7 linked regions of the Homo sapiens genome follow. The protein of the gene in region 7 interacts with the protein of the main gene of each other region in a biochemical or structural test. Each region holds a gene or a part of one and is shown on either strand. Other genes may lie near its edges. The genes, in order: KRT2, DDX6, DDX10, SOS1, CCT6A, CDK16 and SIRPA.

What was found.
Region 1: the proteins of SIRPA (region 7) and KRT2 form a complex in vitro, tested with the Homo sapiens proteins (one large-scale study listed by BioGRID).
Region 2: the proteins of SIRPA (region 7) and DDX6 form a complex in vitro, tested with the Homo sapiens proteins (one large-scale study listed by BioGRID).
Region 3: the proteins of SIRPA (region 7) and DDX10 form a complex in vitro, tested with the Homo sapiens proteins (one large-scale study listed by BioGRID).
Region 4: the proteins of SIRPA (region 7) and SOS1 form a complex in vitro, tested with the Homo sapiens proteins (one large-scale study listed by BioGRID).
Region 5: the proteins of SIRPA (region 7) and CCT6A form a complex in vitro, tested with the Homo sapiens proteins (one large-scale study listed by BioGRID).
Region 6: the proteins of SIRPA (region 7) and CDK16 form a complex in vitro, tested with the Homo sapiens proteins (one large-scale study listed by BioGRID).

What each region holds. Positions count from the first base shown.
Region 1 is NC_000012.12:52,643,097-52,646,659, forward strand, and holds the end of KRT2 (keratin, type II cytoskeletal 2 epidermal), read right to left. Parts: intron 2,474-3,563; coding exon 2,439-2,473; intron 2,339-2,438; coding exon 1,923-2,338; 3' UTR 1,462-1,922; downstream 1-1,461.
Region 2 is NC_000011.10:118,759,722-118,764,207, reverse strand, and holds part of DDX6 (probable ATP-dependent RNA helicase DDX6), read left to right. Parts: intron 1-901; coding exon 902-996; intron 997-4,163; coding exon 4,164-4,286; intron 4,287-4,486.
Region 3 is NC_000011.10:108,716,602-108,721,087, forward strand, and holds part of DDX10 (probable ATP-dependent RNA helicase DDX10), read left to right. Parts: intron 1-3,195; coding exon 3,196-3,284; intron 3,285-4,486. UniProt on the Homo sapiens protein: Putative ATP-dependent RNA helicase that plays various role in innate immunity or inflammation. Plays a role in the enhancement of AIM2-induced inflammasome activation by interacting with AIM2 and stabilizing its protein level.
Region 4 is NC_000002.12:39,023,552-39,028,037, forward strand, and holds part of SOS1 (son of sevenless homolog 1), read right to left. Parts: intron 587-4,486; coding exon 459-586; intron 1-458.
Region 5 is NC_000007.14:56,061,765-56,064,489, reverse strand, and holds the end of CCT6A (T-complex protein 1 subunit zeta), read right to left. Parts: coding exon 2,641-2,725; intron 1,808-2,640; coding exon 1,735-1,807; intron 1,478-1,734; coding exon 1,405-1,477; 3' UTR 501-1,404; downstream 1-500. Other genes in the region: SUMF2 (inactive C-alpha-formylglycine-generating enzyme 2 isoform i precursor), read right to left, coding at 112-178. UniProt on the Homo sapiens protein: Component of the chaperonin-containing T-complex (TRiC), a molecular chaperone complex that assists the folding of actin, tubulin and other proteins upon ATP hydrolysis.
Region 6 is NC_000023.11:47,225,181-47,228,680, forward strand, and holds part of CDK16 (cyclin-dependent kinase 16), read left to right. Parts: intron 1-591; coding exon 592-686; intron 687-784; coding exon 785-847; intron 848-1,098; coding exon 1,099-1,222; intron 1,223-1,402; coding exon 1,403-1,523; intron 1,524-1,631; coding exon 1,632-1,729; intron 1,730-1,813; coding exon 1,814-1,919; intron 1,920-2,000; coding exon 2,001-2,043; intron 2,044-2,198; coding exon 2,199-2,289; intron 2,290-3,386; coding exon 3,387-3,464; intron 3,465-3,500. UniProt on the Homo sapiens protein: Protein kinase that plays a role in vesicle-mediated transport processes and exocytosis. Regulates GH1 release by brain neurons. Phosphorylates NSF, and thereby regulates NSF oligomerization. Required for normal spermatogenesis.
Region 7 is NC_000020.11:1,919,035-1,923,520, reverse strand, and holds part of SIRPA (tyrosine-protein phosphatase non-receptor type substrate 1 isoform 1 precursor), read right to left. Parts: intron 2,127-4,486; coding exon 1,809-2,126; intron 1,209-1,808; coding exon 876-1,208; intron 1-875. UniProt on the Homo sapiens protein: Immunoglobulin-like cell surface receptor for CD47. Acts as docking protein and induces translocation of PTPN6, PTPN11 and other binding partners from the cytosol to the plasma membrane.

The sequences.
Region 1 (3,563 bases), on a different chromosome or scaffold from region 7:
TCTTTTCCCCTCAGAAAGTTATTAGAATGGATTGCTATTCCCAAAGCCTTTTAAAAAATGAATAAATTGGGAGTGGGAGACCTGGTTTCTGTGTCCACCCTGGGCCTTACCTTTTTCCTCACCTAAGTGAAAAGTTCAAATACACTGATTACCAAAGCTCCTGTCCAGCCTCAAATGTCTGGGACCAAGTCCCTGTTAAAGGTTGTGTTCATGTCTACACTATGTACATACCCGAAAACAGCCAGCTCCTCACACCACTTCTTCCCAACCTGCACCCTCTCCCCACAGACCTCTCCCCACGACTGAGGCCTGGGTGGTTCTCAGGGACCTTCTCTGATCAGCGGATCACTTTAGAATGCTCAGCCTGGAGTCTTGCCACCTTGCCACCTGCAGCCTTCAGAGCTGTTCCTGCAGCACCCTCATACCTGGGTCCTGGCTGGTCTGGAGGCAAGTGAATGCATCTGTTCTCTATTAGAGCCGTCCCTGCAACCTCTGGGAACAGGAAGACGGTCACAGACTCAACTAAGGACTCTCCAAGGTTTTAAAGCTGGGGTGGAGTGGGAGAAAAAAGGACCCTCCAGGAGTGGTTCTGAGTGGCTTTAAGCCACAGCTACTATAACCAAACGCCACATACAGAAAGCTAAGCTGACCTAGCCTGAGCCACCAACTCCCATTTGGGCAACTCTGGCCTGTCTAACACCAACCCCAAGCATGCCCAATCCCACCTGCCCAACCATTCCTGAACTCCCTGGAAGCCCTGCTCAGGTGACATGGCCTTCCTGAGGAAGGGGCTGAAGGCATCTTCACACCCACAGGAGAAGGCCAACCTGATGGCAACATCCATGCGACAGGCCCCGGGGGCTGCGGTGAGAGAGGAGAGAAGGGCTTGTTTGCTGAGTGTGGTGGGACTCCGCTGACAGGAGGGGTGTCCTGTGAAAATAGAAGTGGCTGTTTTGGAGGCCACTTTAGAGTCCTCCAGACTCTTCCCAGGTATCCTCCTCCAGGCTTGCTCAGAGCCCCCGCAGAGACAGAGGCCAGGACCTACATCAGGCTGAGGAAGGTCTGCCTTGGAAGCTCGGAGCTTGGAAACTCACCACGATGGTGCCAGGGGCTCAGCGGTTTTGCCCTGAGGAGAAGTGATCCCGGGCCAAAGCCTTTGTGGAAAAGGGAGAGGGCAGTCTGTGGGAAATGCTCAGGAAGAATGGGTTTTTCTAGAAAAGAGACTCTTCCACAAATCTACCTGTCCACCTCCCGGCAATGCCATGGCCCTCAAGTCTGGTAAATACTTTCTGAGAACCACACACCCATCCCCAGGCTCCCATTCATCCAGAGGCTGGCGCCTGGGCTTCCCTCAGGGAGGCACGCTCCTCACCCAGGAGCCCCTCCTTAATGCCCAAACCTCCCTTGTCCATGGCTGCCCACTTCCACCAAGGTTTGACATCACGCAGACAGCACATGATATGAATTGCAAATGAGGTTTATTATGAAGACCCCCAGACCACAGCACTTCCGAAAGCAGAGTGGACAAGAGGAGCTATATACACAGAAACACATTTCCCCCCAGCACTGCCAGGCTTAGAGATGAAATCCCTGGATGGGCCTGGGTCCTCAACAGAATACACATCTGGAAAATGGGCAATGCAAAGAGGCATGGTGGGGGCGGGAATGGGCATGGCTAGAAGCACAAACCTAGACAGCACAGATTCCGCCCCAGAACACAGAGGCGTCACTGGCTCTAACTAACTGGTTTGGAGAGAAGATCTTTCAAAAACTGTATGTGGACATTCTTTTCCCTCAAAGTGCCATCAGAGATAAATGACAAAAATTTAACTTGCTGCCAGTTAGAGGTACAGAGACAGGCTTCTACATTCTGGAGTGGGAGAGTCTGGGTTGGGAGAGTCGGTGGTGGTGGGGGCTCATCTTTATCTAAAAGAGAAGGTCACGCTGGAACCAAAAGCTTCACCTGAGCTACCCTTTACAGAGCTAGAACCCCCACCTCCAGAGCCATATCCTCCTCCAGAGCTGGAGCCTCCTCTAGAGCCACCTCCAGAGCTGTGTTTTCCACCTCCAGAGCCATATCCTCCTCCAGAGATGGACCCTCCCTTAGAGCCACCACCAGATCCGTATCTTCCTCCAGAACCACCGCCAGAGCCATATCCTCCTCCAGAGATAGAACCTCCTCCTCCACTACCGCCTCTGGAGCCAGACTGTCGGCCTCCAGAGCCATAACTGCTGCTTCCAGAGCTGTATCCTCCTCCGGAACTGGACCCTCTACCTCCAGAACCTCCAAAGGCAGCCTTGGATGCCACATTTGATGAAATGGTGCTGCTTGTCACAGCTGCAGAGAGAGGTGGTGTTACCACAGAGATTATGACTGCCTCTCCCTGCCTCCACCTGACACAACACCCCATGGAACAGGACCACACCCCATTACTTACACACAGTCACATTGCTGCTGAGGTCTCCAGACATCCTGTAAGGGAGAGAGAAAAAACAAGTTGTGGTGGAACACTTAGGTTCTGTATGCATGTTGTTTTACCACTTCCACCCGCAAATGTGCAGTTTAGCCTCTCTAAGCAGCCACCAGGGCTTACACACCCCACTTTCTTCTATGCTGCCAGGTCACACAATGACGACAGACCCCCTTCCATTTATGCACAACCTTGCATGTCAATCCCTCTCAATTTTTGCTCTGATAAAAAATGAACAGTTGCGTGGTTGATCCAAGGTCACTGAAAAGCAAATTCACTTCCTACTTTGCAACCCATTTGTGTATTTAAATCCATCTTGGAGAGTCTGTTATTCAGAATCCATGCCACATCAGAAATTATACAATGAGGCTGCCTGTGAACATTCAGTTCAGAAAGAACTGTGACTCTGTAGAGCCTCCCCATTCCTCTCTTCTTCCCACCCTCTTCAGCTTCAACTGAAAACTTTCCCACTTCCTCTTACAAGCTGGGCATAGGAGGCATTGCCTCTAGACAGGGACAGAGCAACCTCCTGAAGAAAGCCACTCCCTGTTTGTCATGCTGGCTTGCTGATGGCCTGGGGTAGCTTTTCCCCTTCCAATTGCTTCAGCCAGATTAAGTCACCCAAGATGCTGATAATACGGACAAAGGTCTCAGACTACAGAGGAAGCAAAGGGTGCCTCTTTGAAAGTTAGCAAATGGTTCCATTTGTCACTCCAGAAACCTGCAAAGAACTGGGGCTGGCACCTGCTCCGGTCAGCACGTCCCCACCAGTCAGCACATTCCGAGACATCATCTCCCCCATTCTGGGTCACCCGGTGGAGGGCACAGAAGCCACTCACCCTATGGACCTAGAGACCAAAGTTTCAGACTGTCTAGGACTAACCTGTTTTCCCATGATTTTGTTTTCTCTTTCAGAAAAGACCAGGATGTTTAACTTACTGCTTAGTTTAATTTAATGTGCCTTATGCATCATTTCATGTTGATAAATGTGTAACTCTCCAATCATGCTTTATGTCCTGAGTTTCTGCTTGGGGAACACAGAGAATGTCAGTTCTCAGTTGTCAGGAGGGCCTGCCCCATTCTCTGCTTTCC
Region 2 (4,486 bases), on a different chromosome or scaffold from region 7:
TATGATAATTATGTGATACATTCTTTGTATTGCATAGGTTTTTAAAAAATTATCTTGTTTGATCCTTTTAACAATACTCGGCTCACTGCTCTAGATTAGAGGCATTGCTCTTATGTCAGAAGTCTGGTGTGCCTTCTGCTATTAATTGAGAATTATCCTAAGACAAGAAAGTATGCCTACTGTTGAAAGCAGCAGGTGATTTAGGAAGCTGTACCCCACCCAATGTAGAGGTGAAACAAATATTTTTTAAGCATCCTGTGGTGAAATGGAAGTCTTTATCCTAAAACACATCTTTGTGCCTTTTTGTGTTATTTCCACCTCTATAACACAATGTGTTTCTTCTCTTTCTTTCTTTTTTTTTTTTTTTTTAATTTGAGACACAGTCTTACTCTGTTGCTCTGGCTAGAGTGCAGTGGTGTGATCTCGGCTCACTGCAACGTCTGCCTCCTGGGTTCAAGCGATTCTCCTACCTCAGCCTCCTGAGTAGCTGGGATTACAGGCTCCCACCACCACACCCAGCTAATTTTTGTATTTTTAGTAGAGACAGGGTTTCACCGTGTTGGCCAGGCTGGTCTCGAACTCCTGACCTCATGTGATCCACCCACCTCGGCCTCCCAAAGTACTGGGATTACAGGGATGAGCTACTGCACCCGGCCTAGTTGTTTCTAATAAAAGATAGTCATGTGCTGCATACAATGTTGTGGTCAGTGACGGCTGCACGTATGTCGGTGTTCCCATAAGATTATAATGGAGCTATACAATGGAGTAGGCTATACCATCACATAGCAATGCATTTCTCAGAATTATCATTAAGCAGCTCAGGACTGTAATATTATAAACCTTTATCCTCTTTGCTCAAATTAAAATTAATGAGAATGTATGTTTTCTAAATCTTGCATAGTGCACGTGGTGATTGCTACCCCTGGGAGAATCCTGGATCTTATTAAGAAAGGAGTAGCAAAGGTTGATCATGTCCAGATGATAGTATTGGATGAGGTAATGTCTCTTCATTTGGCATTATACTGTTCTGTACTTTTCTGTGCTTTGCTTATAACTGCCAGTGAATGAAGCAAAAGCTGCTTGTGTTTATGATCTAATAAACACATAAACAATCAGTTTAAATTAATTTGCTTATAAAATGTGTTTTACCCGTCAGAGGGAGTAGATTATAGGCATTCATTGGAATTCAGCATTTTGTCTTTTTCTTAGAGATAGCAGACATTAGGTTTTAATTTTTTAGTAGAGGAGTGAATAACCTCAATGCCAAATTTATTCTAAGTCTCTTTCTGCTCTGTGATTAATTTTTAAAAGCATATAATATATATTGTCTCTTCTCATTTTGTGCATACTACTTTGTACTGTTTGGTTTTTAATCTCTGTTACATGTATTATCTCACCATGTTATAAATGCCTTTTAAAAACTTATTAAAATCTGTAGTCCTGGGATCTAGCCATGTTTTGTACATGTACAGATGGTCCCTGACTTAAGATGGTTCACTTTACAGTTTTTCAGTGGAAGTGATAAGCTTTCATTAGAAACTGTACTTTGAATTTTTAAGATTGATATTTTTCCTGGTTAGTAATATGCTATATGATACTCCCATGATGCTGGGCATCAGCAGCAAACTGCAGCTCCCAGTCAGCCACATGATGATTGAGGGCAGACAGCCGATACTCTACAGTATACGGCGTTGCAGGTGATTTTGCCCAACTGTAAGCTAAGGTAAGTGGAGCATGTTTAAAGGAGGCTAGGCTGAGCGATGATGTTCAGTAGGTTTGGGTAATATTTTCAACTTAGGATGAATTTATCAGAACATAATCCCATTGTAAGTCAAGGAGGATCTATAGTGATCAGCGTTGTTAATGTTTTGACATGAGGTTATTTTCACATTTGGGTTGAGGTTTATTATTATTATTATTATTTTTTTTTTTTTGAGACAGACTCACTCTGTCACCCAGACTGGAGTGCAGTGGCGTGATCTCGGCTCACTACAACCTCTGCCTCCCCGCTTCAAGTGATTCTTATGCCTCAGCCTTCTGAGTAGCTGAGATTACAATTATGTACCACCCACGCTCAGCTAATTCTTGTATTTTTAGTAGAGGCGCGGTTTTGCAATGTTGGCCAGGCTAGTCTCGAACTCCTGACCTCAGGTGATCCTACTGCCTCAGCCTCCCAAATTGCTGGGATTACAGGCATGAGCCACCACGCCCGGCCTGGTTTGTGTTTTAGGTAACATGATTTAATTCAAATCAGACTTTTATCTTTAAGTAATGAGAGAGAACATTTATTAATCACTGGGTACCAGCACTAAGTGCTTTACATGGTTTGTTTTTTTTTTTTTTTTTCCATTTAATTTTTACAAGAAACCTATAAGGTAGGTATCCTGTCAAGTAGTTACTATAGTATGTAGACATCCAACTTCTAATTTGCTTATAAAATACGTTTTATACTTCAGATGCAATAGATAGGCATTCATAGGAATTCAGCTTTTTGTCTTATAGATGCCAGAGTTTAGGTTTAATTTTTAAGAAGAGGAGTGGCTGGATAACTTGAAAGTCAAGTTTTTTCTTTTTTGTTTTGTTTTGTTTTGTTTTTGAGACAGAGTCTCGTTGCCCCGCTTGGAGTGCAGTGGTGCGATCTCAGCTCACCGCAACCTCCACCTCCCAAGTTCAAGCGATTCTCCTGCCTCAGCCCTCCCGAGTAGCTGGGATTACAGGCATGTGCCACCATGCCGGGCTAATTTTGTACTTTTAGCAGAGACAGGGTTTCTCCATGTTGGTCAGGCTGGTCTCAAACTCCCGACCTCAAGTGATCTGCCCACCTAAGCCTCCCAGAGTGCTGGGATTACAGGCGTGAGCCACCACACCTGGCCTTAGCCAAGTTTTTTCTAAATCCCGGTAAAGTAGTTACTACATTATGTAAACATCCAAATTTTAATAGTTTTACAATTTTAGAGTTGTGGAAACTGAAGTACAGAGTAGTTCTGTAACATTCCCACACAGCTGAGAAATGAAGGAGGCAAGATTTCAACCTGGCAGTTTAGCTCCAGAACCTGTACTTTTTTTTGAGACAGAGTCTTGCTCTGTTGCCCAGGCTGGAGTGCAGTGGTGCGATCTCAGCTCAACTGCAACCTCCATCTCCCAGGTTCAAGCAGTTCTTCTGCCTCAGCCTCCTGAGTAGTTGGAATTACAGGCGCTTGCCACTGTGCACAGCTAATTTTTGTATTTTTAGTAGAGACAGGGTTTCACCATATCAACCAGTCTTGTCTTGAACTCCTGACCTCAGGTGATCCGCCCGCCTGGTCCTCCCAAAGTGCTGGGATTACAGGCGTGAGCCACTGCACCCGGCCTCAGAACCCTTACTTTTTTTTTTTTTTTTTTTTTGAGACGGAGTAGTCTCGCCCTGTCGCCTAGGCTGGAGTGCAGTGGTGTGATCTTGGCTCACTGCAGCGTCCGCCTCCCAAGTTCAAGCGATTCTCCTGCCCCAGCCTCCCGAGTACCTGGGATTATAGGTGCGTACCACCACGTCCAGCTAATTTTTGTATTTTTAGTAGAGATGGGGTTTCACCATGTTGGTCAGGCTGGTCTCAAACTCTTGACCTCGTGATTCTCCCGCCTCGGCCTCCCAAAGTGCTGGGATTACAGGCGTGAGCCACCGCGCCCGGCCAGAACCCGTACTTTTAAACACTACACCATACTACCTCTTTAATGAGAATCATCACATTAAAATTCTGTTGTGGAGCTGGGCATGGAGGTATGTGCCTGTAGTCCTAGCTACTCAGTAGGCTCAGGCAAGAGGATCACTTGAGCCCAGGAAGTTCAGGCTGCAGTGAGATACGATTATGCCACTGCACTCCAGCTGGGTGACAGAGTGAAATGCTGTCTCTAAAAATAAATAAATTAATTAAATTCTGTTACAGAAAGCGGGGGAGGTTGTCTGTGTAGTGTAGAATTTTTTTTTTCCCCTAGAAGATGGGGATTATAGATTTTGCCCCCTTCTGCATATTTGACTCTCTGCAGTGTTGGAGAGAATTTATTGTTTTCCACCAGGAACATTTCATGGATGCTTTTGTTGGATGATGCCTTATTCTTTGACCATGTATTAACCAAGACCTTAGACATTATTTTATTGTTTTTAAAATTGTCTTTTCTTTCTACTGCAGGCAGATAAGTTGCTGTCACAGGATTTTGTGCAGATAATGGAGGATATTATTCTCACGCTACCTAAAAACAGGCAGATTTTACTATATTCCGCTACTTTCCCTCTTAGTGTACAGAAGTTCATGGTGAGTATAAATCTGTACTTGGAATCAGTGCCATCCTGTGACCTTTGAGTATGCTTTTATTTGTAATTACATCTTCATATCTGTGAATATACTTTATGCTAATTATTTCAAGCCTTTGGCTCTTTCTTCAGTTGATCAATTAAAGATTTGTTTTACGTAAATTAACTGACTTTTTAAGAAGGTTGTAATAGTAACTTAAT
Region 3 (4,486 bases), on a different chromosome or scaffold from region 7:
TTGACTGTGAGATTAATATCTTCCTACATTAGATTAAATTTCTAGAAAGCATAGAACTGCAGCCAAATTATCTTTAGGAATGAGATTTTAACTTACGTTTATGACTTGTTGTTCCCCAATTACTTTTCTGGACTTAAAGATCTTGATTAGCAAATACATAAAGAAGTCAATATTTAGTTTTATTTTTCTTAATTGATAAATTATATTTCTGGTATGTAACATGTTTTGAAACAAATATACATTGTGTAATTGCTAAATGAAGCTAACTAGCATAGGTATTACCTCACATACTTGTGGTGAGAAATCTATTTTAGTTAAACTTTTTTTTTTTTAAAGTTTTTAGAATATTCCACAGTAGATTCTTCGGTAAAAGATGTGAAATTATTTTTCATTATGCTTTCCAATCTTTCTAATCTTTGAATTAACAGATATTTGAGTTCTTATCATTTTCACCTGTCCTTTATTGCCATTTATTGCATTTACAAGATCTTTGCATCTCCCATAGCATATCAGCAATGAGCCAGAGAGTAGGGATTCAGAGGTTGGATTCTATTTCAGCAGATAGATGAGGTGGGAGGAAGAATATAAAGAAGAGTTATAGAAAGGTCACCCTAAGTCGATAGGGTAGCCTGAGCAGAAAAACATTCAATAGTTAGGGTTTTATGTAATGGTTTTGAAACTGTTATTCCTGGCAAAGAAGTAAGTTTTTTTGTTTGTTTGTTTTTGATACGCAGTTTCGCTTTTATTATCCAGGCTGGAGTGCAATGGCGTGATCTTGGCTCATCGCAACCTCCGCCTCCCGGGTTCAGGTGATTCTCCTGCTTCAGCCTCCCGAGTAGCTGGGATTACAGGCATGCGCCACCACACCCGGCCAATTTTTTGTATTTTTAGTAGAGATAGGGTTTCACCATGTTGGCCAGGCTGGTCTCAAAACTCCTGGCCTCAAGTGATCCGCTTGCCTTGGCCTCCCAAAGTGCTGGTATTACAAGCGTGAACCACCACGCCCAGCCAGAAGTAAGTTTTATATAAAGAAGAGATCTTAAATTTTTTGCTAACTTATTTTATATTTTAGCAAATTATCATTGGTGTGCTTAGAATAACATTAATGATGAGGCTAAAATTTAAGTGCTTACTGTGTGCCAGGTACTTAGTTATGACAAAACTGTTTTACATGCGTTGTTACCTAATCTTCCAGACAACCAGTGAGGTAGGTGGTATTGATTTGACTGTACAAATGGGTAAATGCTAGCTTGAAAATTAAAAAATGTCTTGGATGGCTGGTTGGGGTGGCTCATGCCTATAATCCCAGCACTTTGGGAGGCTGAGGTGGGTGGATCACTTGAGGCTGGGAGTTTGAGACCAACCAGGCCAACAGGGTGAAACCCTGTCTCTACTAAAAACAATGACAAAAAAATTAGCTGGGTGTGGTGGTGCATGCCTGTAATGCCAGCTACTTGGGTGGCTGAGGCATGAGAATTCCTTGAACCCTGGAAGCAGAGGTTATAGTGAGCCAAGATTGTGCCATTGCACTGCAGCTGGCCTACAGAGCGAGGCTCTGTCTCAAAAAAAAAAAAAAATTGTCTAGAGTAACATAGTTATTAAGTGGAAGACCTGAGACTGAACTCCAGGTCTAGCTTTCTTGAGATCTACTGTGTTATATCAGGAGAAATTAATTCCAAAATATGAGAGCATCAAATGGTAAGCTATACCAAGTTGGACTTCTATAAGCTCACTTTACCTGAGAACCTTTTCATTAAAGGATCTTTGAACAAATGGTTAATATTCATTTTTCTTAAAAATGAATAGGCATGCAAACATGTACATTTTTTTTCTAGCAAACATCCTTCAAACTTGCAGTTGAAACCTAGGAGCTTTGGAAGTAGTACACACATTTAAAAATATTAGATTAATTTTGGTATGTCATGACTTACTGCATGCCTAAGAGGTCATTCAGTTATCTATCAGAAAATATGAAACATTGGAAAGATGTTTTTTCACTGGTTTGTGCATACAACGGATGAGCCTTCCAGAACACTGATTATAGAAAAGTGTGTTGAAATAAATGATGTGATTTATTGGTTGTCACGCATGGTTTAGCAGAATGGCCAACTGTGTTGCCAGCAGCAGCAAGCTATCTAGTTTCATAGAAGTGATTTTCTAGGTTTTGATTATAATCTGGATAGAACAAAAGTGATAAGCAACTGAGGTGATTGCTTGTGGATGATTGTAGGGGAAAAAATTATTTTTAAACTGGTGCCATTCATTGTTTTTTATGCCTATGGAGACAGAAAATGGTTTGGAGATTAGTTGGGTAGAAAGGATTAGTGTAAAGCTAGATAAAACATGAAGTTTAGGAAGTATGCAAACAGGAACTAAATATACTTTACAAAAGTCAACTTAAAAAATTACCTAGATGAGTTTTGTTATCTGTGTATTTGACAAACTGATAAAGGATCAGGACCCTGTTTATATTCTGGTTTGTGTAACTCTAGTATGAAGATAGTTTTTTTTTTTTTTTTTTTTAACAGAAACAAAATATTCCAAGTTAATGATGAATTACTTGAAATCATAAAAAAGAAAAGCTTTAGCAATAAAGTTTTTCCTGAAATGGTTTTATTAAATCTCAATATGTAAAATTTTATTTAATTGAAAACCTTATCTTTTGATACAATAATACAAAATATTATCAATAACTAGCATTTGTTGTTACTATATTCCAGAAAATATGCTAGGTATCTACATGCATTCTTCTAATTTTATTCTCATAACACTCTAAGTAGAAGGTAATGTATCCCTTTTTTGATAGATGAGGATACTGACATGTAGAGAAACAAGAAATTTGCTCAGTGAGTAAGAGTTTAAGCTTTGAATAGATTCCAAATCTATATTATTCCAAAGCCTATATTTTCCCCATGGTGTACCTTATTGTAATGGAATTATACTGACTTTTAGAGTAGCCTTTTGGAAAGAAGATATTCTGGGTTAGGTTGGCTTGAAACCAAATGCAAAGTTTTTTTCTAATATTACAGTTCTAAAAGGTAGGTTTTCATGTGTGCATGGAATGGAGATATACTGAACTATTTCGTGGTTTTTCAGTACTATTGAATTTATCCCATTGGCTAATTTTCTTATATTTTGGTCTAAACTCATTTTTAATTTCTATTATATTGTACTTTTCAACCTCTTAATTTACAGTGTTTCGTCTCCTATGTACGATCTGTATATCTGATGAAGGATAAAGAAGTATTTGATGTGAGCAAGTTACCTATACCTGAATATGCCCTGTAAGTATTCATAATATAGTTGTAATAGTGAATCCTCAAGGTTAGAGGGAATTAATTAATTAATTTAGAGATGGGGTCTTGCTATGTTGCCCAGGCTGTCTCAAACCCCTGTGCTCCAGCAGTCCACCCACCTCAACTTCCTGAAGTGTTAGGACTACAGGCGTAAGCCACCACACCCGGCCAGAGAGAATTTGTTTGAAACCTGGTTCTCTGAGATTCTTAGTTTAAGCCACTCTGCCTTACGTTAAAAGAATCTGTTTGTTAAAGATTCTCAGTGGAAAAGATGAAATTGACTTGGCAGAAAATTAGTTCAGTGTTCAGTTCTTGTTAATCAGGGAGCAGTTTATTATTTGTAAGTATAAATTCCTTAAAGTGACATTGGCCATTTCCTATAGTTTGATCTTAAAGGAGACAGAGAGCAACCAATAAGCATTCTTTGAAATCTTTAAGTGTCTATAGTTTTCTCGTTCTCTGAAACCCTTGCCTGGATTACCATAGACATTTTATGCTTTGAATGTGAGCCTCTTTGCTGATTCTTCTTATGTTAGGTTGTTTTCTTCAATTGCTTACTGCCTGAATATTCCTCCTGTCTTGGTGTTTCTTACAGGTACTCATAGTTACTATGGCAAGATGCTCCTTTTTAGTAACTGAGGTTACTATTGTATGAAACAGAATGGCTGGTTTTGTTTTGGCTTAGTATTTGAGGGATTTTTTGCGGGGGAGGAGACAGGGTCTTATTCTGTCACCCAGGCCATAGTGCAGTGGTGTGATCATGGCTCACTGCATCCTTGACCTCCCAGGCTTAGGTGATCCTCTCATCTCAGCCTCCTGAGTAGCTGGGACTACAGGTGCATGCTACCATGGCTGGCTAGTTTTTTTGTAATTTTTGTAGAGATAGGGTTTCGCCATGTTGCCCAGGCTGGTTTCAAACTCCTGGGCTCAAGTGATCCCCCCACCTCAGCCTTCCAAAGTGCTGGCATTACAGGTGTGAGCCACTGTGCCTGGCCGGGTTTTTTTTTTTTTTTTAAACCTTTTGACCTATAAAGAAGGAATGTTTATTCTTCAGTGGGCTCTTACTGTGGGAGTGGTAAAAACATTGGCACAATCTTATAGAAGCACCTTTGAGATAATCATACTTTGAATATCAGCATGAAATTTCCCAGACTATGGTGAAATATGTGATTACAAGGCAAGGTCTGTAT
Region 4 (4,486 bases), on a different chromosome or scaffold from region 7:
GAAAGATTAAAATAAATTATTTAGAAGAGTTTAAATGGACAAGACCCAAAGCTAAAAACATGTAGCACATATTATAATCAGGAAAGTGGAAGCAATGTTATCTGAATTAATGCCTCAAGTTATATAATCCCTAAAATAAAGGACACTAATAATTTTACTTTGACAGAATAACGATGCCAACATAAATCTACCCGATACATTTTACTCTGTCTCTCCTTCAGCTTACCAGTTGACTCTCAGGAGGTCTTGTCTGGGAGTATGCAAGGAAAATGCACAAATATGAAAGGTTTTTCAAACAATAACAATTCTCTTGGCTTTGATGTCACTTCCTCTAAAAGACCAGGCTTGTCACTAAAACTATTTTCTTCATTGTTTACTTGAGGAGGGAACTGGGATCCCTGAATTTACACCACAATATTCAGGGAAAAAAGGATATTTTAAAAAGTAAAAATATTCACCTCAGTCTTCGTTTTGCAAGACTTTTAGAACATATTTTTTCCATACCACTCTGAACATTAAGCAAAGCTGTTATTGCTTGTTTTAAACATTCCTTGTCTTCTTGATCTTCACTTTTTTCTTCTAACTGCTGTAAAGCCAAAATGACAAATCTGAACCAGTAGTACATTTTTGGATAAAATAATAATAAACTCATTTAAGGATAAAAATAACATTTATTCAACTGTCACAATAAAAATTTTAAATGTGTCATCAAATATTCTTTTTAAAAGTGTTTTTCTTGTGTGTTACTATTAATACACAACCAAGTTTTCTACATTAAAAGACCAAGATTAGCAGTGTTAAGATGGGTTATATCTTGTGACAGGCAGTAATATGTAGTTTTTCAAGGTGCATACCACTGAAAAGAAATGGGGAGCATAATCGATCTACTGAATTATCATAGAGTTAGCATACCACTAAGCATGTAGACGAGGTTTTTTTTTTTTTAAGTGTGGAATTTGGTCTTAGGTTTCTGACCCCTATATTATTGTTATATAATATTGAGATGATAAGGAAGATAAATATACAGAGAACGATGCAATATAGTAGAAGGAATCTCAATTACAAAATCTAGGATCAAATTTTGACTCTACTTCTGTGTGACCTTGGGGCAAGTCACTTGATCTCTGAGTCTTACTTTTCCCATTTGCCAAATAAGGCTTATAAAAAGCCTACCCTGCCTACTTTTAGGGGTTGTTATTAAAAACCAAAGCACTTTGTAAATGGTAACACACAATGTAAGTGTAAATGGTTTTCTTTGTAATTATACTACAGAATTAACATTAGTATAATAAAGAACTTTGTCCATATCCACATTAAGATTTTGAGTGAAGCTATAATATACATATTTATGAAACTGAAACTCAAGCATATTTTCTATTACTGGCAAATATCTGTGTCAGACAGAACGTCTCTACTTAACAAGAACTAAGTCATCAGTAACTAATTGTCAATACAGTAAGGTGGCTATGATTCAAGCAAGCACTTAACAGATGTATGAGTCACAATAATTCACTCATACATCTTAAACCTGTTCCTGGTTACCAAAAGGAAAAGTTAAGAAATCACATATTGGCTGGCTGCAATGGCCTATGCCTATAATCTCAGCACTTTGGGAGGCCCAGGTGGGAGGATCGCTTAAGCCTACGAGTTTGAGATACCGTCTATTAAAATAAAATAAAATAACATTTTATCAATAGAGTTTTCATCCAACAATTTAGGAATACCTACTCTCTACCATGAATGAAAAGACTTGAGATACACAATCATGAAATATTCAAAGTGATTTATAAAGAAGTTTATTTTTCTTTTTTTTTTTTAGATGGAGTCTTGCTCTGTACCCCAGGCTAGGGTGCAGCGGTGCAATCTCAGCTCACTGCAACCTCTGCCTCCCAGCTTCAAGTAGTTCTCCTGCCTCAGCCTCCCGAGTAGCTGCGATTACGGGTGTCTGTCACCACACCTGACTGATTTTTTTTTTTTTTTTTACTTCTAGTAGAGACAAGTTTTCACCATGTTAGCCAGGCTGGTCTCAAACTCCTGACCTCAAGTGATCTGCCTGCTTCGGCCTCCCAAAGTGCTGGGATTACAGGCGTAAGCCACCATGCCTGGCTAGAAGTTTACTTTTCAATTAGCTTAAGTATTCATTAGTACATTAGTACTTTAAGGATTTTGTGTTTTTCACAGGTATTCCTTAAAGGTCAACAACACATTCCTTTCTGCTTCAATTGATAAAAATCAGTTACATGCATGCGCATGCACATACCACATGCACTGATGACCTGTGAAAAGTAAACAGATTTCTTACTTATATTCTAAACCATTTTTATTAAAATTTACTTAAAATACTTTAATGGTCAAATATTCTAGAAGTAATGAATACCATATTGTAATGTTTAATACTTAGCTTTTATTATCCAGATTTCTTATATTCATTATTAAAAACTCACCATACTTTCTACTAGAGGCATAATCTACATTTTTAGGAAAATTTTCAGTCTTAACTGTGTTAAGTAAAAGAAAAATTTAGGCTGGGCACGGTGGTTCATGCCTGTAATCCCAGCACTTTGGGAGGCTGAGGCGGGGGGATCACGAGGTCAGGAGTTTGAGACCAGCCTGGCCAATATGGTAAAACCCCGTCTCTACTAAAAATACAAAAATTAGCTGGGTGTGGTGGCACACGCCTGTAGTCCCAGCTACTCGGGAGGCTGAGGCAGAAGAATCGCCTGAACTCAGGGGTCAGAGGTTGCAGTGAGCCGTGATCGTGCCACTGCACTCCAGCCTGGGCAACAGAGTGAGACTCCGTCTCAAAAAAAAAAAAAAAAAAAACAGAAAAATTTATTCCTAACAATTCTCAACATAAAAAGGGTAACGAAAGATATTTTCCAAAGGATAAGAGACTTTAAAAGTGTACATATTAATACAAAAATCAAATATCTTTTATTCATAATATTGTTCTTCAATATGGCCAGCTAGATTAAAGAAAGCCAATGGCCAGGGTTCATAAAGAAAGATACTAGGTTTTTACTTAACAGATATTACTAGTAGGCTGAAGGCTGGAATCCAGGTAATCTCTCAAAGTACCTTCCATCCCTATCATTTGAAACTATTTGCCTCTCACATGGCAGAATTCTGGGAGACAAATAAAATGTTACCATTAAACATTATCAAGTTTAGTCTTTAAAGCAGCAGATAATCTAACATTGAAAGCTATATACCAGGGGTATCCAATATTTTGGCTTCCCTGGGCCAAACTGGAAGAATTATTATCTTGGGCCACACATAAAATATACTAACACTAACGAGAGCTGATGAGCTTTTTAAAAATTGCAAAAAAATCTCATAATGTTTTAAGAAAGTTTACAAATTTGTGTTGGGCCGGGGGTTAGACAAGCTTGCTGTATACCTTAAGGCAAATTTAATGAAAGCACCACTGAACGATGAATTAGTTCACTGAGTTGATTGAGAATTTAATCACTCAAAAGCAAAGCCCAGAGAAATTCAAGTCAGTAAGATACAAGGCAATTTTTCGGTCTTAAATAACTAACAGGTAGCAGAATATTGAGCATTTGATATTTTGTCCTGGATACATTTTTTATATTTTTAATTCAGGAAAACATACCTAATGGTAGACAAAATATATAATTCTCATACACATAAAAATATTTATAAAAGAAAAAATCCACTTGGACATCCTTTGATTTTCTATCCTAAAAATGTTTCAAGTTTTGGAATCATTTATCTACTATTTAACTGTAGCATTTTACATACAGAATATTCTGGTATCTCAAAAATGTTAATATTTTAAAAGCCACAAACCCAAAGTACATTTCAAACCCATAAAACTTTCCTGATGAAATACTTTTAAAATGTCATTTTTACCTTTATAGCATTAGGCAAGCCTCTAAAATAAATTTCAGTGTAATAAATGACCTTTCTTCTACCACTTTTTGCTTCTTTTACTTAACATAGCTAATTTAAACTTGGCACTGGTGCAATATAATTCAAGCTAACTACCATCAAAAGGGTGGCTTATTGTGGCTACAGAGACAAAGCAGTGGCAATTAGTATGTAAATGAGACTCAACAAAGCAGCATCCTCTTGTTACCAGTGATATTCAATACCATGCTTTTCATGAGTGCCTATTTAATAATAATGTGCAATAGTAACAATTACATTTGTACAAAGGCAGTTTATTTGAATAGTTTTAAAAAAAGTACTAAATCCTGAGATTATATTACCATATGAGATTGTACTTAAACTCATCTAGGGAATCATATTATTATTTTTTTTTTTTTTTTGAGATGGAGTCTTGTTCTGTCTCCCAGGCTGGAGTGCAGTGGCACAATCTTAGCTCACTGCAACCTCCACACCTCCCAGGTTCAAGCGATTCTCCTACCTCAGCCTCCAGAGTAGCTGGGATTACAGCTGCGTGTTACCACACCCAGAAAATTTTTGTATTTTTAGTAGAGACAGGGTTTTGCCATGTTGG
Region 5 (2,725 bases), on a different chromosome or scaffold from region 7:
GCTGCAGCCGCATCCCGGAAGCCGGCAGAAGGGCCTAAGGCTCTCTCCCGTCAGGGCGGAGCGCCCCATCCCCTTCCCAGCGCCCCCAGGATGGACGGCCGGTTCACTGACCTAGCTTGAGCCACGCGCCGACCAGGAGCGACAGCAGGGGCAGCAGCGGTAACCCATGCCGGGCCATCAGGACTGCCGCGCTGCGCCGCGTACACCCACGGCCCCGCTGCGCATGCGCCCTCATGCACCGCAGCGGCAGTCGACCCCTATGCACATGCGCAGGCTGCGCCACCACCCGCCCCGCACCCAATAGTTCAGCAGGGGGAAACTGACGGAGCGAGGCGGAGGACTGGCCACACCACCTTCAGGACCGCCCAGGGAATTAAGGAAAACCACGTTGAGGGTCCCGGCCGTTCCAGAGGCCCCTTCACTACTTTTCTGAACCTTTGGACAGTTTTCATTCCCCTTAAGATTGCTTTTGTGCGTCATACCATTGCAAGAACAGAAAGGAGGTTTCAACTTAACATTTATTGCACAACTCACTTCAGGCCACTGCTGACATCCCAAAACACAGCCTAGTAACACACAACTTCACCTTCAAGGACTGCAGAGATAGACCAACTATATATAAATAATCTCGTGGAAACGTAATTTGGGTGAGAAAAATATGACGCTAGAGACTTTGCGATGAATATTTTGCCTAAGTTCAGAAGCTTGAAAATACAGTTGGCCTACAATCTCAAATTTCACCCAATAACCGTGGCCCTTAGTCACCACACCTTCCATCATCTTTTTACCTCTGCCTGTTCTTGCCCTTTACAGTTGCAGCTCTCTCAACTCCCTTGCCTCTAGTTGACTCCTCTTCCCATTTCCTACAACTTTGTGGCGGGAGCATTTTAGCAAAGCCATTTCAAAGGCGTTCAAAGTCCAACTGATCCAATGCATTTACTCAGAAATTTATACCAACAGGGATGCTTTCAATATTTTAAATTACTTGAGCATTTATATTAGCATAAAAATTTTAAAACCAAATGCTTAACAATAGGGTAGTTGGATAATTTAACATACGTCCACATAAAATTAAACCATTAAAATTTGCTTTTCAAGAAATATTTAATAACAAGGTAAGTAACATATGCTTATCTAACATGGAATTTTATGTCACTGCTGCTAAAGCAAAACATCCTGTTCACTGGATAAAAGACCTGCTTTATGTGTATACACTTCAGTGCAATTTTTAAAAATACTATAATTTCAGAACTTCCAAATTTCAACAGATGCCAGTGTTCTCTCCTTTTTTCATATGGGAAAATTTCTTTCAAAATTATTTGAAGCTTGGACAAAAATTCCACAGCTGTAATCCTCAGGATCACTTTGCAGTCTTCAAGATTCAGATACAGAGGAAGCTTCAATTCAACCTTTCAGAGAAGACATTCCAGCTCGCATGATCTCATCAACCAAGAGAATGTTGGTGGCAATCACAGTGCTGAAAGGGGGACAAAAATAAGATGGCTCAGATGATTAGGAGCCCTAATTCGACTCAACTTCCCACTTCCAACCAAGCTGCACACATTACATCCAATTAAATTTCCCCCTTCCCCTCTACACATCAGAGGGCTAGTTCAGTTTCCATACTTCCAGCTGATCACATTATTCATGGGGGAAAGGAGCAACTAAACAGAGAACACCAAATGAAAAAAGTATGATTCTCTAACAGTTTAGTTTTCATTTTCCCAAACTTACCAGGAGTGAAGAAGCTGTTTCTTTACACAATAGTTATCCCATACGCCTACTTCTGCTGCCACCATTGGCTCACCTAAAAGGCAACCAAATCTTAAAATAAGTTCAGTCAGTAAGAACCAACAATATTGTGTGCAGCTTTGCTTATCACTGATGACTCATTTCCTCCAGTATTAACTATGAGAATTCAAAGCTTCTCTGTTAGCCCAATTTTCTACTCTAAACCATGACCCCCGTCCACAATATTTGATGAATGTCTGACTTATACTTAGAAGTCCTGAACACCCCTCTCTTCTTCTGGATACATTTCTGTTTACTCATACTGAAGTATAGCACTTCAACTATAATCTGACTAAAATGGACTGATCATTTCCCTCATTCCAGAAACCTTTTCTATTAATGTTGACAATAGGTCTTGCACATACTGCATGGAGGTACCTGTTATCTCCTACTTTGTACTTAATTTGTGTTGTTTTGTTACAGGAACCTAAGATCAGGGCTGTCACCATTTCACTAGATTTCTACATCCCCTTTTCTGGCATTAATTGCTATCTTTAGCTGGTTTTCACCCATGAATATAATCACCACATCTATTTTCTTATCATAGTACTTGATTAAAAACTGAGTAAGGCAAATGCAATATGAAAATCCTTCAACATTAATCTGAACCATCTACCACCACTCAACATCTCCAAAATTGTATCCCCAAATTACTCATGTCTACTCGTCCCTTAATTATACCTAGTCATTCCATTTTTTATTAATATCCTATTTTATCCCATTTTAGAACCCAGAGTTCCCTAACAGCACTGGTGTCAAATTGCAAAGCAAAACATTTTTAATCTTTCCTGGCTTCAACTCACACGTATTACATCTAGTTTTCCCTCTACAACAGTTGCATTCTCTTACCTGTGTTCAGGTCCACACCCACAAGCTGACCTGATTCTGAATGTTCTGCTTGAATTTTAACTAATGTTTCCTGAAGGTCAAAACC
Region 6 (3,500 bases), on a different chromosome or scaffold from region 7:
TGGTTCTAAGACCCCCCAAAACACTCTGGCTTTCATGGGAATGCCTGTCACCCACATATCCAGGTAATAATCAGGGTAACCAGGAATCTGTTCCCATTTGGATAAAAGGTAGATGAATTGCAAACCAGGGTTTGGTTCTGAGAACACCCCTGAAAGTGCTCACCAGTTTATTTACTGTAACAATTTCTAGTCAGAATATCACATGGAATGAATTTGAATTGCACTGAAATTTAGTGTGCAAATTCGATTTCACGCGATGCTGCAGGCCTATGTACTGAGGGTTGGAGCCAGGCCCCTTCCCAGAAACCAAAAACAGGTTGTGAAAATCTAGTGTCACATGAGCCTGGGGCTGCAATCCCAGGTTCTTGCTCCATACTCTCCTCTGAGTCTTATTTTCCACATCTGCAACATGGAGACACAACTTTCTTCTGGCATGAGGCGGGTTAGAGCTGGTGGCTCCGAGGCATTACCCTGAACTGTCTAGAGAAAGAAAGAAAACCTGGGCTTGTCCCTTTCTAGTCCTTGTCCTCACCTCTGTCCTGAGGGTAGGACCCTGACTCTTCCCCTGTCCCACTCCCATGCTTCCTGCAGTGTCCCTGCTCAAGGACCTCAAACACGCCAACATCGTTACGCTACATGACATTATCCACACGGAGAAGTCCCTCACCCTTGTCTTTGAGTACCTGGTAAGGTTGAGTGGCAGTAGGTCCCAGGGGGAGGTGAGGAGAAGGCCAGGAGCCATAGGAAGTAACCCTCATTCCTGTACCACCTCTTCTTTCCTCAGGACAAGGACCTGAAGCAGTACCTGGATGACTGTGGGAACATCATCAACATGCACAACGTGAAAGTGGGTGTGGGGCAGGAAGCAGGGGCACAAGGGGGCCCCCACTCACCCACTCCAACCCACAAATCTCCCAGAAACGGACTTTTCCCTTTGGCTTTTTTTGCTAGGAGCCCTTGGAGGGCACTGGGACCCTGTCCTCTTTTGTGTGACAAGGCTCTGGGCCTAGTGTCTGTGTTTGGGAGGGGAGCAGTGCCTGCTGGGGGTCGGGCTAGTGGATAGTCTTTGACCTCTGCCTGCCATTCCTGGGTCCCCAGCTGTTCCTGTTCCAGCTGCTCCGTGGCCTGGCCTACTGCCACCGGCAGAAGGTGCTACACCGAGACCTCAAGCCCCAGAACCTGCTCATCAACGAGAGGGGAGAGCTCAAGCTGGCTGACTTTGGTACCACTGGCCTCCCCTTTCTTATTGGCTCCCCAGCCTCCTACTTTCCCATGACCACTTAGTCTCACTTCCCTTCAGCCTTGCCAGATTTTGCCTAGGACACCCTCAGTCTCAACTGCACTCTCCCCGAGACTTTGCCCATGACTCCCTCATTCTAGCTGTCCTTTCTCTGATTTCCAGGCCTGGCCCGAGCCAAGTCAATCCCAACAAAGACATACTCCAATGAGGTGGTGACACTGTGGTACCGGCCCCCTGACATCCTGCTTGGGTCCACGGACTACTCCACTCAGATTGACATGTGGTAAGGACAGGTGGAAGTGTGGCAGGGGCCATGTGGTAAAGGGGGTGGCTTGGTCACAACAGCCACCCAGCCAGCTGCCTTTCTATTCACTGTGCCCTCCCTGCCCAGGGGTGTGGGCTGCATCTTCTATGAGATGGCCACAGGCCGTCCCCTCTTTCCGGGCTCCACGGTGGAGGAACAGCTACACTTCATCTTCCGTATCTTAGGTGAGGAGGCATGGGCCCTAGGCGCTGTGGAGACACACGGGGAGGACCTGTGAAATGTTTGGGATAACTCCTCTTCCCTACTAGGAACCCCAACTGAGGAGACGTGGCCAGGCATCCTGTCCAACGAGGAGTTCAAGACATACAACTACCCCAAGTACCGAGCCGAGGCCCTTTTGAGCCACGCACCCCGGTGAGGCTGGTGGGTGGGTGGGCGTTAGGGGCCAGAGTGTCCAAACTCATTTTAAATCAGGTCTCTTTGTCCTTGTGGCAGACTTGATAGCGACGGGGCCGACCTCCTCACCAAGCTGTTGCAGGTGAGACCACCTTGGGTCAGCCTTGGGGGTATGGGATTCCAAGTGTGGGGAAACAGGGACCCCCCCCCTCAAACCAGGGGCAGGGTCTGAGGTGGGCAGAGAGACCTACTTGTTGAAGATATCAATACTATCCCCCTCCCCGCACCCCCACTCAGTTTGAGGGTCGAAATCGGATCTCCGCAGAGGATGCCATGAAACATCCATTCTTCCTCAGTCTGGGGGAGCGGATCCACAAACTTCCTGACAGTGAGTGGAGCTGGGGAATGGACCGGCCAGCGTGGGGACTGGGAAACAGGACTGCTGGGGCCAGCTGGCGGGTTGTGTAGGATTCTGGCTGTGCCACCTCTACGTGGGGGGACATCTTGTTCACGTGTGTGATGGGTTGTATTTGTTATGAAAACATTTTTTAGTTTTCAGTTCCTTTTACCTTTCATGAAAAATTTAAAACATACATAAAAATATATGCAATAGCACTTTACTTTTTTTAAAGTAGACATTTCCTTACATGTGCTAAAAAATGCACAAATCATAAGTATACTATACAATGAATTTTCATAAATGAAACACATCCTTGTAACTAGCACAAAAGTCAAGAAACAGAATGTTAAAAGCTCCCCACCCCCAGCTCCCTTGCATCTCCTTCAGTTATTCCCAGCCCCTTCCCAAAGGGTGGCCACTGTTTTGACCTCTAACAGCAAGGATAAGTTTTTTCTGTCCTTGTACTTTATAGAAATAGAATCACATGTGATGTTCTTTTTATATCTGGCTTTTAAAAACTTTTTAATATGGATATTTTCAAATATATGTATTTATATATTAGTCAAAGTAATATGATGAGTCCCTAAGTACTCCAGTGAGTCATCAATTCATGGTCAATCTGGTTTTATCTATATTCTCTCTGATTATTTTGAATCACATCCAATCCCAGACATCATAGCATTTATCCTTAAATAATTTCAGCATATACCTATAAAAGATTTTTTTAAAACAACAATATTATTATCAAACCTACAAAAAACATTTGCTCACTTTCCCTATCTTCCCACTGGATTAATATATAAAGCAAACCCCAAACACCACCCATCACCTAGACTTAACAGGTGGTAATTGCAATACCATAATTCACTTGACAAAGTTAATAATGATTTCTTTGTGTCATGTAATAGTCTATATTTCATCTTCCCTGGTTGTAGCTGGTTTGTGTATGGAATTGTTTGACAGATAAAGGTCAAGCCTCTCAGAGAAGGGGCAGCTTTTTCTAATTCTTCCCATGGGGTCATATGGGGCTGGTCCTAGATGACCTCATGGGTCATCCCCCACTTCTATGTCTCCCCCATCTGTAGCTACTTCCATATTTGCACTAAAGGAGATTCAGCTACAAAAGGAGGCCAGCCTTCGGTCTTCGTCGATGCCTGACTCAGGTAGGTATAGCCCCTTGTCTTCCTCCCTGCCCCACC
Region 7 (4,486 bases):
ACATCCTAAGAAAACCTGGCATTGGTGAAACCAAAGGGCCACTTTGACACAGCCCCAAGGCTGTCTTTGAGAGCTTCCCTGAAGGGTGCATGAAGGACAGAAATGGCTTCCATTCTAATCCATTCAAGGGTTCTACTATGTACAGGGCATCAGCCACATTGATAACAGGTGATGAAATATTCCATGGCTGCACTGAAATGCCAATCAGGTGCCACCATTTGAAAACAAAAGAGATGTACACCAACACCACGTTGCAAGGGCTGAGAAAATGATACCTTGACACCCTCACACTCTCTCAGGGGAGCGACAGCATTATCTCCTCCTTACATGAGTATGCATTTTGGCCTAAAGTGTTCCTTGGGCAATCACACAGAAATAGTCACATGTGGGATGGAACATGCACAAGGATGTTCACTGAAGCACTGACTGTATGTGAGACAAGCTGCAAACACCCTGAATGACTCCACCCTGGCTTCCAGTGGGGCAGGCTCCCAATGGCAGCCAGGGAGATGAGGCAGGGGCTAGAAAGAGTAGGGAAGAGGGGCTGGGCCAGTGAGGAATGGGGAGCATGACAACTGTCAGGTGAAGAAGGCAAGAGGCAGGACACCATGAACAGATGGGCCCCCTCTCTCCCTCTTTCCTCCTGTGATATAAATCTATGTCAAAAGATCTATCAAGATGTGCATCAAACTCTTACCAGTGGTGACTCTTGGAGTGTGGGATTTGGGGAAATGGAGCTGACATTAAAATTCTACTTTATATTTATAGACTTCTAGATTGTTCTATAATAAGCATGAATTACTACTTTTAACATTTAAAAAACCCACAAAACTAAAAGTTTAAAAAAGCTGGGTCAGCTGAAATAGAGGCCTCACCAGCGGCGGTATTTGAGCCCTGCTCCTTCGGGTGGGCTGAGACCTTCAGGTCATGGCTTTTGCTGACCGCTGGCTGCCCGTCATGCTCCACCTGGCAGGTGAGCTTCACATCATCCCTGTGGGCAGATACATTCACCAGGAGCCAGCTCATCCAGTTGTAGGTACCATCCTTGTTCTCTGTAACGGTTGAGGCCGTTTCTGTCCGGGACACGTTTCCATTCTCCAACCAGGTCAGCTGTAGTCTCTGGGGGTAGAACTTCCTCACCTGGCAGGTGACATTCACCTGGTTCTCTGCCCTCACGGGCTGTTGAGTAACCTCCAAGGTGGGTGGAACTGAAACAGCACAGGGCAGAAGCTCTGACCTTGTGGCACAGACAGATCACAGGGAGGGCTCCATAACGTAGCTCCCCCACCACGGTGAGGTCATCACCAGGACAGAGCTAGGCAGGCATCAGGTGCTCAGACATTGAGGGTGCTCTTTGCATATGAATGAAATTACTAAGCACAACGCCCAGCACACAGTAGGTGCTCAAGGACTGGTAGCTCCTACTAGGCTAAGAATGAGGGAAATCTATAAGCACCACCCCTGGCATGCAGTTGGAATGTTGTAACTGTAGCAAAATAAAGAAAATCACCAAGCACATAGAGGCTTAGTTCATAGTAGGTACTCATTAACTGTGTTTGCTATCAGTGAAATAAATGAAACGGCTAGCACAGTCCTTGGCACCTGGTGGGTGGTGTGGTCACCCAGCCACTGCCATTAAAATGTTAGTAAGTGGCTGGCACATCTAGGGGCATGGGAGGTGGGCAGTTAGGAATTTAGGTTCCAGGCATTTCAAGCCCTGGAGCAAGAGTAGAGCTGGATGAGTGGAGGGTGGTGGGGGGTGGGCTTGGCGGTCAGGTGTGGGCTTGGGCTGGGTGAGGGTCTTCTACCTCGGATGGTCTCAGACAAGTTGGCAGTCCCACGAAGAGGGTCCCCCTGCAAGGTGACGTGGGCCACCTCGCAGATGACTTGAGAGTGAACGTCCTCGCGGGTCAGCACCACCTTGGCTGTGCTGTGGATGCTGTAGGACACGCTCTCTCCTACGGGGTCCACGTTGGTCTGGAAGTCTGAGAGCTCATTCCCATTTTTGAACCATTTCAGGGTGATGTCTCTGGGTGAGAAGCCGTGGGACTCGCAGGTGAAGCTCACTGTGTGCTGAGGTGTGGCCCTCGCCGCAGGGCCCGATACCACGGGGGCAGAGGGTTTGGCTACAAAAGGACCATCGATAATCAGGAGACATGACTCAGATGACAATCACTAACGATAAGTGTGTGACACGTTAAGAACCTTCTGAGACATTATTTTTTATCCTTCCAATAATGTGGAAGGATTAATGAGGGCGGTGTCCTTATTGTCATTTTACAGAGCAGGATGCAAAGGTTGGGAGAGGTGAGGACCCATGTGAGGTCAGACAGTGTAGGGGCAGGGCCCAGAGGGAAGTCCAGGCCTGAGTTCAAACTTCTCCACTCCACACAGGGTGACTTCCAGCAATTTGGGCACAGGATCAAAATTAACGATCCATCTCATCCTTGGTATTAACTGTTTCTACCCTGCCTCCCCTGGCAACAGTGCCAACCTCAGAGAGAGCGTTTATAGAGGTCAGTGCAGGGAGTAAGCAGCAACGTGGCATCACCATGAGAGCTGGAACCAGGCCGCTCAGCCCATGAGAGGGGCGGCCTGGCACACCCAGCTCCTTGTCTGTAAAATGGAACAGCAGCATTTCTCCTTTCTGGGATGCAGCGAGGATTAAATGAGGCAACAGAAGCAGTTTTGCTTTGGATAAACACAGAAGATGCTTCACAAAAATAAGCAAAAACAGATCTAACTTTAACCCAGACTTTATTCATATCCAAAGCTCTCTCTTCAGGTATTTATGAATTTACTTCATATTTTTCATTTTCTCCACAAATATTCCAGCAGGGTCTAATCTGTGCCAAGTGCTAAATTTGAAAGGAAGGGATACTTTTCTGAATCTGCGGTCTTCTTTGGTGTCAGTTTTAGATAGACACTAAAGATCACCAAGTGTGGAGAAAGCCAAAGTGGTTAATTATCAATTAATTACACAGACACAGGGCGCCCAAGCAGGCAGAAGCACTTCCTGGGTCCTGAAAGCACACACATGGCTGAATCAGAACGCGGGCTGTTTCTCCCTGCAGATGGGTCGTAAACGTGTCTCCAAATTGCTAATCATTACCCCATACCTCCTATCGCAGTCACCAGGAAGCACATATCACACATACTTGCATTTGTAAATATTAACTTCTCCCTCACACCCATCAAACATTTTGAGGGCACAGTAAGGAGGGTGTCACTTGAAGAAGTCAAGTCATTGAGGCCAGCGGCCTGGATGTCCCCACAGGGCTGAGGGGCTGCAATCAGTTCCCATTTATCCAGGGCTTCTCTGGAGCTGGACACTGGCTGCTCCCTCCATGCCCGTCAGCTCTTTAATCCTCACTCCATCTCTGTGAGGGGATCCTCGTGTGAGCCCCTTTTAGGACAAAGCTCAGAGAGGCCCAGGGCCAAAAGTGGATACAAACCCCACCCTGTTAAGAAGAGGGAGGATGAATGCAAGCACAGAGCCTGGTATGCAGCAGGTGCTTAATAAATGACCCCTGTGACTGTTATCAGGAGGTCTGGTCATTACTGCTTCCGAATCTACACATTTATCCTTCAGGCAGCAGAACAAAGCAGAGCAGAAACACCAAGAAAAGGCTCAAACCCTGCTCCCTGTGGCTCATGACAAACCCAAATGATACAAGGAGCAGAAACCACCAAGTGAGGATTCTCTCCCCTTTTCTAAACAATCCCCTCAGGAAACAAGTTTGGCGAATTGGCTTTCAAAACACAAGATCACAGGCGCCTCCCTCCAGAAGAGCCATTTACAGAAGCTGGAAGCATTTTAAAGGAGGAGGGAACAGACTCCTCCGTGACATCTTGGTGTGTCGAGGCAGGGAGGGTTCTGGGGCCGAATTGGAAGGATTTGCTGGGATTCCGGCGGTCATTTAGACAAAAACATTTTCAGGATGGAAGGTTTCCCCACACTGAGGCTGGATCTGAGCAGGGCTTTGTCTGGGGCCCCTACCTTGGCCCCCGAGGCCTGTATCATAAGAGGGGGTCTGGCCAGGCCACTGGGGCCTCCAAAGAGCTGTCCCGGGTGCACGTTGTTCAGAAGCATCCACACCCTGAAAAGCTGTTCTCCCATCTGGCACCCCAAGAGGACCATCTTTTCCAACTTGTCCTCCGTGACCTCTGGGTGTCTATCCCAGGGGTTTTCAGTCCTGACTCTGTATTAGAATCTTCTGGATTAATTAAAAACTTTAGATGCCTAGGCCCATGCCAGGCCAATTGAAGAGGCATTTCTGTGGTGGAGCCTGGGATTTATTTCAATGTTTCCCAGATGATCCTAAAGAGCAGCCAAGATTGAAAACTACCTGAGTACATCCTAAGGACCATTTATCCTTGAGGCCTGGAGGAGCACTAACCCATCTGAGGTTGCATGGCTTCAGCATCACACAGCTCACATCTGTTGAACATTGACTGCAGGCCAGGCGCCTGCTGCCCTAAGCAC